Linked DNA regions of Homo sapiens: region 2 is linked to region 1. Evidence: fine-mapped expression QTL. Tissue or cell type: cerebellar hemisphere. Region 1 holds a variant in brackets; the other region holds the start of a gene. All regions are shown on one strand. Distances are between the middles of the regions.

The links. PIP is the estimated chance that this variant, and not a neighbour inherited with it, causes the effect.
Region 2: it holds the start of GSR, and the variant in region 1 is fine-mapped to the expression of GSR in cerebellar hemisphere (GTEx, PIP above 0.99).

What each region holds. Positions count from the first base shown.
Region 1 is chr8:30,704,060-30,712,162 of GRCh38, reverse strand. GSR (glutathione-disulfide reductase) reads left to right here. Exons shown (of 13, transcript NM_000637.5): 2 at 75-101; 3 at 2,261-2,349; 4 at 4,022-4,091. Among named protein-coding and RNA genes, the nearest start is that of GSR, 20 kb to the left of the region's middle. The variant G/T (reference allele first, on the strand shown) is at 4,429.
Region 2 is chr8:30,724,179-30,732,281 of GRCh38, reverse strand. It overlaps GSR (glutathione-disulfide reductase), which reads left to right and starts at 4,436. Exons shown (of 13, transcript NM_000637.5): 1 at 4,436-4,752. The coding sequence starts at 4,447. It also overlaps a transcript of UBXN8 not described here. RefSeq lists enhancers at 2,564-3,088, 4,851-5,538 and silencers at 4,176-4,265, 4,336-4,775, 7,920-7,979.

The DNA.
Region 1 (8,103 bases):
TGCATTTCTTGCAGATTTCGTTTGATGGTTTGAATTCAATATTCTTAAAGTGTGTCTCTTTTTTTTTTTTCCAGGTGAATGTTGGATGTGTACCCAAAAAGGTAGAATTTTTATTTCTCTTTCCCTTTACAATCCTTTTTCTATTTGGTAAATCATAATCAAAATCAGAATGTTTCCAAATAGATCAGTTAAAATTCTTTCTGCAAAAAAAACCCCTAGACCCTACTAAAAGTAGCTTAAGCAATAGGATTGTTTTTGTTTGATTTGTGTTTTTTAAATTTTTTTATTTATTTTTAATTACTTTTTATTTTTATTATTATTGTTTTTTTGAGACGGAGTTTCGTTCTTGTCACCCAGGCTAGAGTACAGTGGCGCGATCTTGGCTCACCGCAACCTCTGCCTCCTGGGTTCAAGTGATTCTCTTGCCTCAGCCTCCCAAGTAGCTGGGATGACAGGCGTGCGCCACTGCACTTGACTGATTTTTGTATTTTTAGTAGAGATGGGGGTTTCACCGTGTTGGCCAGGCTGGTCTCGAACTCCTGACCTCAGGTGATCTGCCCACCTCAGCCTCCCAAAATGCTGGGATTATAGGCATGAGCCACAGACCCCAGCCAAGGCCTGGTCATCTACACCACAGGATAGTTTTTTCTCAGCAAAAAGACCCAGCCAGCAAACCAAACTGTTGAATGGAATCTTCTCAAGTTCTGTGGGTTCATGGATTTTCTGTATCACATTAGTGATTTTTTCGTTGTTAATATCTGTGGTGCAGGTCACATTGAATGAATTCATTTTTTTTACCCTTGACAAAGAGGAAAAAACAGCAGCTCTTATTTGTAAAGCTGCCTCTTGCTTATACTTGCAAAGAATTTTACCACTCATTTGAATGTACTTTCAACATATGTTGTAATCTCAAGCTTACCACCTTTATTAATGACATTCCATTTTAACTTGTCATCTTTTTGGTATTATATAAGCAAATCTCCTAATCTCATCAGTGATGCATACCTGAGTTTAATTCCAAAAAGTCTTTTTGAAGTCTTTTCCGTGGTATAGGTAAGGTGTTTTTCTTTCTGTCTTAGGAAGACTTTTCTTCTCTGGGACATTTTCCCTCAACTATTTCCTTTCCTATTAGTCATACTTTTTGTAATCTGTTCTACTTGGAGCCATGCAATTATGACTGTATGAATTATATAAATTAATTATAAGGTGGTTTTATGTAGTTTAAACCAGTTATGGTGGTAAATTTCGTGTTGATTGGTACAAGTTTATTTTTTTTTAAATATACCACTGGGCTAATACTGCACAGTAAACTGATTTTGTAATGTTTTAGTCTCATATTTACTTATTCCTTCTGATCACATGCGGTAGACATTTATGTATGTTCATTTATATATTTTTTTTTCTTTTTTTTCTTTTCTTTTTTTTTTTTTTTTTTTTTTTTTTTTTTTGAGACAGAGTCTCACTCTTGCCCAGGCCGGAATGCAGTGGTGTGATTTCAGCTCACTGCAATCTCCACCTCCCAGGTTCAAGTGATTCTCCTGCCTCAGCACAAGTAGCTGGGACTACAGGCGTGCATCACCATGCCTGGCTAATTTTTTTTGTATTTTTATTAGAAATGAGATTTCACCATGTTGGCCAAGATGGTCTCGAACTCCTGACCTCAAGTGATCTACCTCCCTCTGCCTTCCAAAGTGCTGGGATTATAGTCATGAGCCACTGTGCCCGGCCTTGTGTTTGTTTCTTTTTAGTCTGTTTTTAATAGCTTTCCCCTTATCTCTTTAAAAAAAAATGTTTTAAGTTAGCAAGGTATAGTAGATTTTATTTATTATTATTATTATTATTTTATCTTTTGAGACAGAGACTCTGTCACTCAGGCTGGAGTGCAGCAGTGTGATCTTGGCTCACTACAACCTCTGCCCTCAGGGTTCAAGCAATTCTCCTGCCTCAGCTTCCCAAGTAGCTGGGACTACAGGTGTGTGCCACCATACCCAGCTAATTTTTGTATTTTTAATAGAGATGGGGTTTTGCCATGTTGGCCAGGCTGGTCCCGAACTCTTGACCTCAAGTGATCCACCTGCCTCGGGCTCCCAAAGTGCTGGGATTACAGACGTGAGCTGCCGTGCCCAGCTAGGTTTGTTTTTAATTTAAAGGGCAGTATTTTTATCTGCTGTTACCTAGTTACCATTCATTCATGATTCCTTTTTTCCCTCAGGACTGATTTACTGCTGTTTTGGATCCTTTTTTTTTTTTTTTTTTACAGGTAATGTGGAACACAGCTGTCCACTCTGAATTCATGCATGATCATGCTGATTATGGCTTTCCAAGTTGTGAGGGTAAATTCAATTGGCGGTAAGTGTCAACACTCAGAGGGTTCAGTTTCCAAGTGTAGATATTTTTCTTTTATAACTGAGCCATAAACTTTTTTAGGGATGGAGGAGGAATTGCGGTAAATATTCACAATACGAGATTTACAGTTTAGCCATTTTTAAGTATACAATTGAGTGCCATTAAGCGCATTCACATTGTTATACAGTCGTCACCACTATTACCACTTCCAGAACTTTTCTGCTATCCCAAACAGAAACTATTCTATTAAACAATAACCCCTCATTCTCTTCTCCCCCTGGCCCCTGGGAACCTCTATTCTGCTTTCTGTCTCTATGAATTTGCCAATTCTAGGGAACTCATATAAGTGGAATCATACAATATTTGTTCCTTTATGTCTAGTGTATTTTGTTTTCACGGTTTGTCCATGTTGTAGTATGTATCAGAACCTCATTCCTTTTTGTTTGTTTGTTAAGACAGGGTCTTGCTCTGTTGTCCACGCTGGAGTGCAGTGGTGCAATCATAGCTCACTGCTATCTTGAGCTCCTGGGCTCAAGCTATCCTCCCACTTCAGCCTCCTGAGTAGCTGGGACTACAGGCACGTGCCACCATGCCTGCCTATTTTTTTTAATTTTTGTTTTTAGTAGAGATGAGGTCTCACTGTGGTGCCCAGGCTAGTCTTGAACTCCTGAGCTGAAGTGATCCTCCCGCCTCAGCCTCCCAATGTGCTGGGATTACAAGTGTGAGCCACTGTGCCCAGCCTTCATTCCTTTTAAAGGCAGAATAAGATTTCTTCATATGGATAAAACCACATTTTGTTTATCCATTCATTTGTTAGTGAATTTTTGGGTTGTTTTTACCTTTTTTTTTTTTTTTTTTGAGACGGAGTCTCACTCTGTCACCCAGGCTGGAGTGCAGTGGTGCGATCTCGGCTCACTGCACGCTCCGCCTACCGGGTTCACGCCATTCTCCTGCCTCAGCCTCCTGAGTAGCTGGGACTACAGGCACCCACCAGCATGCCTGGGTAATTTTTTGTATTTTTTTTAGTAGAGACGGGATTTCACTGTGTTAGCCAGAATGATCTCGATCTTCTGACCTCGTGATCCGCCCACCTCAGCCTCCCAAAGTGCTGGGATTACAGGCGTGAGCCACCGCGCCCGGCCTGTTTTTACCTTTTGGTTATTGTGAACAATGCTGCTATGAACATTCGTATATGGGTATCTGTTCAGGTCTCTGCTTCCAGTTTCTTTTGGGTCTGTACTTAGAAGTGAAATTGCCGAATCGTATGGTAGTTTTGTGTTTAACTATTTAAGGAACTGCTGTAAATCCTTTGAAGCCATTAACAGTTTTGAAGAAATTTAGCAAATTTATTTATTTAGCAAGTGTTTATTAAGTGCCCACCACGTCCTGTGCACATCATGTTCTAGGCACTTTGCCAAAACATTTCTCCTTGTCTTCTGCGCAGAAAGATGATGCCAACTGAGTGTGTTCTCCACTGAGTGGCACAGAGGCTTTTAACACATGGGGCAGCAGAATGACACAGGGAAGGGATGACTGTCTTCGGAGACATTCACTCACTGCGGTTGCTGTTGACAGTCAGTGATTCTCTGCTCGGGGTGTTCAGGGACAGATGCCTTAGTTACTAACTAGAAGGGGAAGATCCTGTTTCTGAATACTGACTTGGGTTTCATTGCAGTGTTATTAAGGAAAAGCGGGATGCCTATGTGAGCCGCCTGAATGCCATCTATCAAAACAATCTCACCAAGGTGTGTATGCTGGGTTTTTAACTTTGAGAAAGAGCTGTTCCCTTCTTGAGTACTCAGCTAAGTCTTGCCAGACTGTAGCCCTATTTATTTATTTATTTTTATTATTATTTTTTTGGAGACAGGGTCTCGCTCTGTCGCCCAGGCTGGAGTGCAGGGGCGCAATCTCGGCTCACTGCAACCTCCGCCTCCTGAGTTCAAGCAATTCTCCTGCCTCAGCCTCCTGAGTAGCTGGGACTACAGGCGTGTGCCACCACACCCATCGAATTTTTGTATTTTTTTAGTAGAAACAGGGTTTCACCATGTTGGCCAGGCTGGTCTCGAACTCCTGACCTCAGGT[G/T]ATCTGCCCACCTTGTCCTCTCAAAGTGCTGAGATTACAGGCATGAGCCACTGCACCCGGCCCTATTTTATTTTTAACGACCAGGTCTCTATCTGTCGCCAGGCTGGAGTACGGTGGTGCAATGATAGCTCACTGTAGCCTCCAAGTCCTGGGCTCAAGCAGTCCTCCCACCTCAGTCTCCTTAGTAACTAGGACTGTAGGCATGCACCACCACACCTGGCTAATTTTTAAAATATTTTGTAGAGATTTCTCACTGTGTTGCCTAGGCTGGTCTTTAAACTCCTGCCTTAGCCTCCCAAAGTGTTGGGATTATAGAGATGAGCCACTGTGCCTGGCCTCTTACTTTTTCTATTATTGAAATTGACCTGTCAGAGCAGAAGCCTCTGACCTAGATGGCCAGTCTCTTCTGCAGAGAGAGGGTGGCATGTGCCAGAGCTGGCAGACCAGGCCTCACCTAATGGCTGCACCTTGAGTAGGTCTGGCCTGGCAATTAGATTCAGAAGTCACATACGAGAGACTTTGTGCACCAGTATACCAGTTTATTAATTAAAATGAGGAGTGCTATCTAGCTGAAAACCTGCCATTGTGTGTTTGTTTGTTTTTTGAGACAGAGTTTCTCTATTCACCCAGGCTGGAATGCACAATCTCAGCTCAGTGCAACCTCTGCCTCCCGCCAGGTTCAAGCAATTCTCCTGCCTCAGCCTCCCAAGCAGCTGGGATTAGAGGTGTGCACCACCACGCCTGGGTAATTTTTGTATTTTTACTAGAAACGGGATTTCACCATGTTGGCCAGGGGTCTCGAACTCCTGACCTCAAGTGATTTGCCCACCTCGGCCTCCCAAAGTGCTGAGATTATAGGCGTGAGCTACCGCACCTGGCCAAACCTACCATTGTTTATTTGCCTAGAGTAAGACCTCCTTAAGAGACCAAATTAGGATTCAGAAGGTTGTTTTTATGAATGACATCTGATCAAGAAAACTGGGCAGAGGTGTGTTTGCCTCCAGCAACTGTATGTCATCCTTCACTATCCTGATGCTTTTCCCCCATAGTGCTGGGATGTCACACCTTTCCCACCAGGACCATGTAGGTGACATTGACAACCTGTGCATCACTTAACTCTCCTTTTCCTTGACAATATCTTCCCGCCACCCTTCATTTGTCTTTGTGGTCTCACTTTGCTGTTTCTAAGATTTCTTACGGTTGTTTGTTTGTTTGTTTGTTTGTTTATTTGTGAAACAGAATCTTGCTCTGTCGCCCAGGCTGGAATGCAGTGATGTGATCTCGGCTCACTGCGACCTCTGCCTCCCAGGTTCAAGCAATTCTTGTGCCTCAGCCTCCCGAGTAGCTGGGACTACAGGCACGTGCCCCCACACCTGCCTAATTTTTTTTGTATTTTTAGTAGAGATAGGGTTTCACCATGTTGGCCAGGCTGGTCTTGAACTCCTAGCCTGAAGTGATCTGCCTGCCTCAGCCTCCCAAAGTGCTGGGATTACAGGGGTGAACAACCACTCCTGGCCCTCTTAGGTTATATTTAGATCAGTAACTTTTTTTTTTTTTTTTGAAAAGGGTCTTACTCTGTCACCCAGGCTGAAGTGCAGTGGCATGATCTCAGCTCACTACAGCCTCGACCTCCCAGGCTCAAGTGATCCTCCTGCTTTGGCCTTCCAACATGCTGGGATTACAGGCATCAGCCACTACACCTGGCTTAGATCAGTAGATTCTTGATGATAATTAGGCCACTGTGATCTCAGTAGCAGCATATTTATAAACCAATTTTTAGGACGAGTTACTTCATACATAGCTAACTGTGTACAGTTTTATATTCTTATTCATTGGGTTTATTTTTTGGAGGGTGAATTTTCCAACCTTAATCCTCAATCCAGGGGGAAAAATATTTAAAGGCCTGCAGTCCTTAAGCACAGGAGATTTTAAGGCTGAGTATAGAGTAACACTGGCAGTACTAAAACACACCAAGTTTTTTATTTTTATTTTTTATTTTTTTGAAGTCAGGATCTCACTCTCTTGAGCAGACTGGAGGGCACTGTCGTGATCACAGCTCACTGCAGCCTTAACCTCCCAGGCTCAAGCAATCCTCCCACCTCAGCCCCCTGAGTAGCTTGGGCTATAAGCACTGTCCCACCACACCCTACTACTTTTAAAAAACGTTTGTAGAGGCCGGGCGCGGTGGCTCACACCTGTAATCCCAGTACTTTGGGAGGCCGAAGCGAGTGGATCATGAGGTCAGGAGATTGAGACCATCCTGGCTAACACGGTGAAACCCCAGCCCTACTAAAAAATACAAAAATTGACCAGGTGTGGTGGCGGGCGCCTGTATTCCCAGCTATTTGGAAGGCTGAGGCAGGAGAATGGCGTGAACCCTGGAGGCGGAGCTTGCAGTGAGCTGAGATCACACCACTGCACTCCAGCCTGGGCAAAAATGCAAGACTCTGTCTCAAAAAAAAAAATTTTTTTGTAGAGATGAGGTCTTGCTATGTTGCCCACGCTGATCTTGAACTCCTGGACTCAAGCAACCCTTCTGCCTTGTCCTCCCAAAATATGGGAATTATAGGCATAAACCACTGCATCTGGCCTTTTTTTTTTTTAATGGAGCTGACTGAAATACTTTTGCAAAAGAGGTAGGAAAATTATTCAGGAACCAGCATTTTGTAATACTTAGAAATCTTGGTGTGTACTATAGCTTATGGTGATCTTATGGGGAAGGAATTACCTATAGTTGACCCAGAAATTCTATATTGCAAAGGAAACTTTCTATCTAATATCCTGGAAACTGAAAGTAAAAATCTCACTGCTTCCTCCTCTGAACTAGTGTCTGTCCTATCGCCACGCGAGCCATACTCCTTTTTGTCTAGCATTGCAGATGAAGTCATTAAGACCTGAGGGAATGGTGTTCTGGAGGCCTGTGGATTTTGTCTTTGACCTTGATTCAGCTTGATTAAGCCTGGCACCTGCAGGAACAGGCCTGGAGGGTGCAGGGAAAGAAGAAGATAACTCAATTCAGAATCAAGCACGTTCCAATATGTTAAAGCATTCCACTTTGTAATCATGCTTACATGGTTCCATTATTCTTGTAAGTTGACCACATTTGCATGCCCCTGCATGTATCATGGCTGGCGAAAGCGTGCCAGCAGCCCCTAAGTGAAGGCCTGGGTACAGAGGATTCCAGTAAGAGCAAATCCAAAAGTAAGAGTCTGAGTTCTCACCGTCTCCAGCGTAGAACTTCAGTGTCATGTACTTTTGTGGTATTCTTCCCATTTTACGAAAGCACAAGCATTGCGTTTCCCTCCCTTGGCCAGAGTATTCCTCTCTTGCTCTTGCCTCTGTTCATTTCACCATTATCCTGTTGTCTTTCTTAGCCTTCTGCCTCTCCTCCAGACACACCAGTCTTTTTGAGAGAGGGTCTTGTCTCTGTCGCCCAGGATGGAGTGCAGTGGCGTAATCTCGGCTCACTGCAACCTCTGCCTCCCAGGTTCAAGGAATTCTCGTGCCTCAGCCTCCTGAGCAGCTGGGATTACAGGTGCCCGCCACCACTTCTGGCTAATTTTTATATTTTTAGTAGAGATGGGGTTTCTCCATGTTGGTCAGGCTGGTCTCGAACTCCCGACCTCAGGTGATCTGCCTGCCTCGGCCTTCCAAAGTGCTGGAATTACAGATGTG
Region 2 (8,103 bases), 20 kb before region 1:
CACCCGACTGCCGTGGGGTGTCCCAGCAAAAGGTCATCAACGTACTGGAGCAACACGCAGCCTAGGTCTCTGGTGGGAAACTTCTGGAGGTCTCGAGCCAATGCCTCCCCGAAGATGGTGGGGGAGTTCTTGAACCCTTGGGGAAGCCAGGTCCAAGTGTACTGAGTAGTGACACCTGACTCCGGATCTTCCCACTGAAAGGCAAACAGCTTCTGCCTCTCAGGGGCTAATCTGATGCTAAAGAAAGCGTCTTTCAGGTCCAAGCAGGTGAACCAGCTGTCCTCAGCTGGCAGCAACCCCAGCAATATGTACGGGTTAGGTACTGTTGGATGTAAAGTCACTGTAGCCTGATTAACCAAGCGCAAATCCTGTACCAGCCTGTAGTCCTTGGTCCCAGGCTTGGGAACAGGCAGGAGGGGAGTGTTCCATGGAGACTGACAAGGAACTATAATTCCAAAGGTTCTTAGGTGCTTGAGATGGACCTGGATACCTTCAAGAGCTTCTCTGGGGACCAGGTACTGTTTTTGCCTAACCGGCTGGGCCCCGGGCTTAACTTCTATAAGTACGGGGGCTTCGTTGACTGCCAACCCTGGAGGTTGTCTTCCGCCCACACTCTTGGCCACCGCTTAGCCAGAGCTGGTCTTATCTCTTGGCCCGGCTCAGTTAACAAAAGTCTCCATTCCTCCTCTCGGGGGACCGTAAGGGTCATAATGACTCCCGTTCCGGGTAACTTTAGCAGCAAAGAGCCGTGCTCTGTAAAAGAGATAGTGGCTCTCAGTTTGCTAAGCAAGTCCCTTCTCAACAAGGGCAAGGGATAATCAGGCATGTACAAAAACTGATGAATCACTTTATGTCTTCCTACAGTACAAGTCCGGGGCAAGCAGAAAGCTTGTTTTGCTGAAACTCCCATGGCTCCGATGATGTCAATAGTCTTTTTGGATAAGGGGGCGACTGGGCCGGTTACTACCGAATGTTCAGCACCGGTATCTATAAGAAAATCAATGTCTTTACCCCCAACTGTCATCCTGACCATAGGCTCTTTGGGAGTCCTTGAGCCCGGTCCCCCTCAGTCCAATAACCCTTCTGCCAGGTTGAGCAGGGCCCCTTCCTCCTTGTCTGGAGCCTCCTGCTCCGAGTCACCTTGTTTTCCTTTTAGCTGAGGGCATTTGTTCTTCCAATGTCCTATTTCTTTACAATAAGCACACTGATTACGCTGCAAGCTCTGACAGCCAGGCTGAGTTTCTTTCCCGGGGCCCCCCTTCCCTTGCCTTTTTGTGGGAGATCCCTCTAATTGCTGCAGCTAACAGCTCGGCATTTCGCCGGGCCTGACGTTCATTCTCTCTGCGGTTTTCCTTACGGCTTACTGCATCCCTGTTTACAAACACCTGGTTAGCTATTTCTAATAATTGTGATGTGTTCATCCCTGCAAACCCAGCCTGTTTCTGCAGTTTTCTTCTAATGTCTTCTGCGCTTTGACTAACTAAAGCCATGTTAATCATGCGTTGATTTTCAGGGCTATCGGGATCAAAGGGAGTATACATGTGATAGGCCTCACACAGTCTCTCGTAGAATTGTGCTGGACTTTCTTCTTTTCCCTGAATGACCTCAGAGAACTTATTAACGTTTGTGGCCTTCTGGGCTCCCCTCTAATCCTTCTAAGAGAGCTTCCCTGTATCGGTTTAGCCTTTGCATATCCTCTCTTTCATTTGGGTCCCACTGGGGGTCGGTTCCCGGTAACTGGGTCCTTACATACTCTTGGGGGTTTTGGTAATCAGCCGGTGCATGTTCCCCTAGCCACTTAGTTGCTGCTTGGAGCACTCTCCGCCTTTCATCTGTGTTAAAGAGGAACATGAGCAACTGGTGGCAATCAGCCCAAGTGGGGTTATGGGTCTGGATAATAGTTTGGAGCAAATCAATTAGAGCTTGTGGCTTTTCAGTACAGGACGGGGTATTGTTTTTCCAGTTGAGAAGGTCGGCAGAGGTGAAGGGCTGGCACACAAAAACACGCCTCTCCGCCATGTGCCCATCCTCATCTATTCCAGTATACCGCTGCTCTCTCAAGGGCATTTGTATCCCCGTTTTGGGTCTTAAACGAGCTGCCAAGGGAGGGGTTTCTCCTGAGGCTTCACCTCCTCTCTTGTCTACTCTGGGTGGCCTAGGGATATGTTTGTCTTGCGGAGGCACAAGCACTGTGGACTCAAAAGTGGGGAGCCTCTCTCCCTGGTAAGGGGAGGGCACCACTGGGATGACTTTTGCCATCTCCTGCAATGGATCGTCTGATGTTGGGTCGAACAGAACTTCAGGAGTTGATTTCCCTCGGTGGGTGGAGCGGGATCCTTCCTTGACTATCTGTCCCTTTGCTACTAGCACTGCTGCTGCCTGCCCTCTTACCCACTGTGGTAACCAAGTGTCTATGTATGGAAACTGGTCTGAGTGTCCTGACTTACCAGTTACCTTGTGCCATACCTTAGAAACAAGGGACCTGTCCAGGCTTCCTTCTGATGGCCAACCCACTTCTAATGTTGGCCAATCTATTTCACACAAAGTTCTAAGTTTCCCTGGTGTCATAGTAACCCCATAGTCGCCATTAAATCCCTTCTTAAAATTTTTCAACATAGTTCCTAGAGGAGTAGGCTTATTTTGTGTCTGACCCGTGTTTCCTCAAGACAAAACACCAAGCTCACACCAAACGCACACCACAAAACAAAGAATGGGTAAAAAGGGCACACACGCACTTTTTCAGTTTTCACCAAACCAGAATCAAAACCAAAATCAGAGTATCCAGTAATCCAAGCCAGGTCAAACCAAAACCAAAGTGTCAAGCAATTCAAGTCAAGTCAAAAACAAAAACCAAAGTGCCAGTACAGGCACGCCGTGGGTGATCAGGCCATGCTTCCACTCAAATGGAGTGGGCAAGTTCCGAAGACCAGTCTTACCAAGTTTCAAATGTCCGGACTCCAAGTGCCTGTTCCTTCCCGGTGTTCAGCCACTGCGTTGATACTCCACGGGGGCCTGCCACGCACTGCTCTGACTAGGCGTTCCACCGGGGCAATTGCCTACCCAGGAGCGCTCGCAGGATCCGCGTCGCTCAAGCTGGCGGGAGTTCCCCGCAGGGATGCTCCACAGGGCAGGCCTAAGCCCCCTAAGGGGCTGCCTCGACTGTCCGTCAATTACCTCGCTTCCCAGTCAGGGAACCAAGAAATATAGCAGGATGAGTCACAGACAAAACTCCTCAGACACCAGATTAAAGCAGGAAGAGGTTTTTTATTCGGCCAGGAGCGTTGGCAGACTCGCGTCTTGAGAGCCGAGCTCTCCGAAAAAGAAATTCCTAGCCCTTTTAAGGGCTTACAACTCTAAGGGGTCTACGTGAAAAAATCATAATAGATCAAGTAAGCGTGGGAAACGTGACTGGGGGCTATATACATCAGCTAACAGAACAAAAAGTTTTACAGTGCTTTCTCATACAATGTCTGGAATTTACAGATAACACCAATAGTTTTGGTCAGGGGTTAATAATATTATTATTATCTTAGCCACCAGGGCCAGGTGGTGGTGCCAAGGTCGTCTAGCTATTTATCTTACTTCTGTTTCTTTCCAACTTTTTGCTTTCTCCCTTTTCTCCTGTCTTATAAACTAGGGAAAAGGGGAGGTTGGGGAGAAACTGAGAAGGACAACAGGAGAAGTGGTGACCTCATACCATAATCCTAGCATTTTGGGAGGCCGAGGTGAGAGAATCGCTTGAGGCCAAGAGTTCCCTACCAGTCCTGGTAACATAGTGAGACCCTATTTCTAAAAAAAAAATAAAAATAATAAAAAAAATAAAAAAAAAAATTAAATAAATAAATAAATAAATTAGCTGGGCGCTGTGGCGGGCACCTGTAGTTCCCAGCTACCGGGAAGGCTGAGGAGGGAGGATCGCTGCTTGAGCACAGTAGGTGGAGGCTGCAGTGAGCAGAGATCGCATCACTGCACCCCTGCCTGGGGGAGAGTGAGACCCAGTCTCAAAGAAAAAGCAAGAACAAACAAAAGTGGTCTCTGGAACAAACCTGGACAAACAACCCTTCGAATAGAGGCAAATTTCTCTTCCTGGAGAAGCCGTGCCACTGGCAACTCCCCAGGGGGCCAGCTCGGGAAAAGCCAGCTGAAACGAGAGGACGTTCACCGTTCCTCGCCTCGATCCACCGGACTTCAGAAGGCTACACGCGGCAGGCGCCGCTCGGGATCCAGGGGCCGGGGTGAGAACGGAGGCGGAGAAACCCCTCAGGCTCCGCCACCGGGGCGGGGAACTGGGAGGCGGCCCCGCCTCTGGGCATCCTCCTGGGTCTTGCCTAGCGGCGGGCGCATGCTTAGTCACCGTGAGGCTGCGCTTGCCCGGGGCCCGCGCCCCCCTACCCCGGGGACCGCCCCCGGGCCGCCCGCCCCACTTGGCGCGCCACTTCCGCGTGCATGGCCCTGCTGCCCCGAGCCCTGAGCGCCGGCGCGGGACCGAGCTGGCGGCGGGCGGCGCGCGCCTTCCGAGGCTTCCTGCTGCTTCTGCCCGAGCCCGCGGCCCTCACGCGCGCCCTCTCCCGTGCCATGGCCTGCAGGCAGGAGCCGCAGCCGCAGGGCCCGCCGCCCGCTGCTGGCGCCGTGGCCTCCTATGACTACCTGGTGATCGGGGGCGGCTCGGGCGGGCTGGCCAGCGCGCGCAGGGCGGCCGAGCTGGGTGCCAGGGCCGCCGTGGTGGAGAGCCACAAGCTGGGTGGCACTTGCGTGAGTACCGCCGGTTTGTTCGGGCGGGGGGCGCCTCTTTGTCTCGGTCTTTCGGGGGACAGCCTGTGCTCGTTCCTATGGCGATCCTGTCCCCCGGCGCTGGGCTTTCCTCTTTTCCACCCCCGCAACTCCCCATTCCGAAGCCAGGAACCCAGCAGGTGGAGGAGAGAGAGGCGTCCGGGGGCTTCTCTGCGGCCCGCAAAGCCGAGCCAGCGTCTGCTTCCGCACGGATGCGATATTGACCAGGGCCGGGGCGGGTTAGATTAACCTTCCTCCATCCTCACTTGTCCAAGTGGGAGAGGATTGGATTCTGTTCTTGACCGCGTGAAACACAAAACTGCATCTGGGAACATTGCTGGTGGCCTGTGTGTAGGGACGAGGGTGACGGTGCCATAGATCCTGGTTCTTGAAAAATGTAGATCCTGGTTCTCCCGTTTCAAGGGCAGAATGATTTATAGCGGTTGTTGTCAACCTTGGCTACACATTCGAATCACCTGAGGGTGCCTGGATTCCCGACTTAATTGGTCTGAGGTGCACTTGGGCTTTGGGATGTTTCCCGACTTAATTGGTCTGAAGTGCAGCCTGGGCTTTGGGATTTTCGGGTGATCTGAATTGCAGCCAAGGCGACCTTGAGTAGGTGAGTTCTCAGAGCTTTTGTTTTGTCTTGGTTTTATGTGGATTGCAAAACTAAAAACAGAGGGATGTAAATCCTGAGATTTACAAAATTCATAATTTTTGAAAATAAGGGTTTTTGTTTGTGTTTGTTTTTTGAGACAGGGTCTTGCCCTGTCACCTAGGCTAGAGTGCAGTGGCCATCATAGCTCACTGCAGCCTCGAACTCCCGGGCTCAAGGGATCCTCTCACCTTGGCCTCCTGAGTAGCTGGAACTACAGGGGGCTAATCACCACGCCTAGTTAATTATTATTATTTTTTGTAGAGATGGGGGTCTCGCTATGTTGCCCTTGCTGATTTCAACCTCTTGGACTCAACCGATCTTCCCGCCTCAGCCTCCCAAAGTGCTGGGATTACAAGCCTGAGCCACTGCACTCATTCTAAAAATAAATGTTGTTTCCAAGTTATTGGTGTGCCCGCCCTTTTCTATCACAAGATTTGGGTGTTGACGATTAAAATGCTGTATCCAAGAGGAACCTGGGATTTGGGATAGGTTCTCTAAATTCCTTTGGAGATGAATATTTAAATTATGTCAAATTGGGAGCTCTTTAAGGACAGGGATGGGCTTCTGTGTTTGTGTGTCTCTTATCACCTTAAAATCCCTTGCTCAATAAGCACTTGTGCAATGAATGAAACTAAAAATGGACAGTTATGAAAAGGTTGACTTCATTGTTCAGTGCCTTGGAGATGAACATGGAGATGAAGAGAAAGGAAAAATCTCTGTTAATTATCAACTTGCACTTTGACACCATAGTCCAGACAGAAGGTTAGAAATCTGTCTCTCCAGAAGGCAGATTGTGGGGTGCCACTAAGTGCCCCCCTCCCACACCTCATGAGAGTACTTGATCACTTCTCACTTCTGTTCTGCTCTCCACATTTTCTCTGTCTTCCTCTTTCTCTACTTATGTTATAATGTGCTTCAGAGGTTCACCCACTTTACCTTCCTGTTATGAATTCTTTTTTTTTTTTTTTTTTTGAGAGGGAGTCTCACTCTGTCACCCAGGCTGGAGTACAGTGGTGCAATCTGGGCTCACTGCAACCTCTGCCTCCCAGGTTCAAGCAGTTCTCCCGTCTCAGCCTCTCGAGTAGCTGGGAATGCAGGTGCATGCCACCATGCCCGGCTAGTTTTTGTACTTTTAATAGAGATGGGGTTTTGCCATGTTGGCCAGGCTGGTCTCAAACTCCTGACCTCTGGTAATCCACCCACCTTGGCCTCCCAAAGTGCTTGGATTACAAGCATGAGCCACCACACCCAGCTAATTTTTTATTTTTAAAATGTATTTATCTATTTTTTTTTCGATATGGAGTCTTGCTCTGTCACCCAGGCTGGAGTGCAGTGGTGCAATCTCGGCTCACTGCAACCTCCGCCTCCTGGGTTCAAGCAACTCTCCTGCCTCGGCCTCCCAAATTGCTGAGATTACAGGTGCCACTACACCCAGCTAACTTTTGTATTTTTAGTAGAGCCAGGCTGGTCTTGAACTCCTGACCTTGTGATCCGCTCACCTCAGCCTCCCAAAGTGCTGGGATTACAGGCGTGAGCCACCACGCCTGGCCTGTTTTTATTTTATTTATTGTTTTTTAGAAACAGGGTTTTGCCATGTTGCCCAAACTGGTCTCTTATGCCTGTGCTTAAGCAGTCGGCCTGCCTTGGCCTCCCAAAATGCTGGGATTACAGGCATCAGCCACCACTCCTGTCCCATTTTTTGTATTTTAAGTGCTGGGATTGGGGGTGGGTAGGGAGAAAACGATAGATATAAACATTTGTGAGACATGTCCCTTCCCTTAAGGAATTTTGTGGTTGTGAAAGAAAAAAATATTGGAACCCCAAAGTATGCCAGAAGGAAAGTTCAGCTTGGGAACTGAATCACACAAATACTGCTTTTCCTTTTGTTCCCAAACAGACAGCTGTAATTTCACAATCCCATGTCATAGCCTTATCTCCTCTACTCCTGCTTTTCACTTTTACTTTATCTTATGTAAAATGTAGATTTACTGAGGCTCATAAGAACCTCACAAGAATGTAACCATCTAGGCTGGGCGTGATGGCTCACGCCAGCACTTTGGGAGGCCAAGGTGGGCAGATCACCTGAGGTCAGGAGTTCGAGACCAGCCTGGCCAACACGGTGAAACTCCGTCTCTACTAAAAATACAAAAATTAGCCGGGTGTGGTGGCACATGCTACTTGGGAGGCTGAGGCATGAGAATCACTTGAGCCCAGGAGGCAGAGGTTGCAGTGAGCCAAGATCATGCCTCTGCACTCCAGTGTGGGCAACAGAGTGAGACTCTGTCTCAAAAAAAAAAAAAAAAAAAAAAGGTGGGGGGTTGGGTAGTATTCTTTGACATTCGGAACCTCAAAAGATGGGTCCCAGGCCTAGGCATCAAAACGGGATATGTTGTGTAATCAAATTTGGAGCACAGAGTGTCTCTTTAATAGAAATAAGAGATGAGAAGCTGATGGGTAGGTTGTGGTTTGAAAAATGTGGAGTTTCTGGACACACAGTGAACTATGGGGGCAGGGGTGGGTTTGAGCAAACCAGTGACTCAGTGAAAGTAGTTTTGTGGTAAGCCATAGGATTGAGATCTCACCCTTGGCGATGCCCAATAGAAGTTTGTCTTTCTGTCTTTTTCTTTTTCTTTTCCTTTCAGTTTATAGAGATAGGGTCTCACTACATTGCCTAG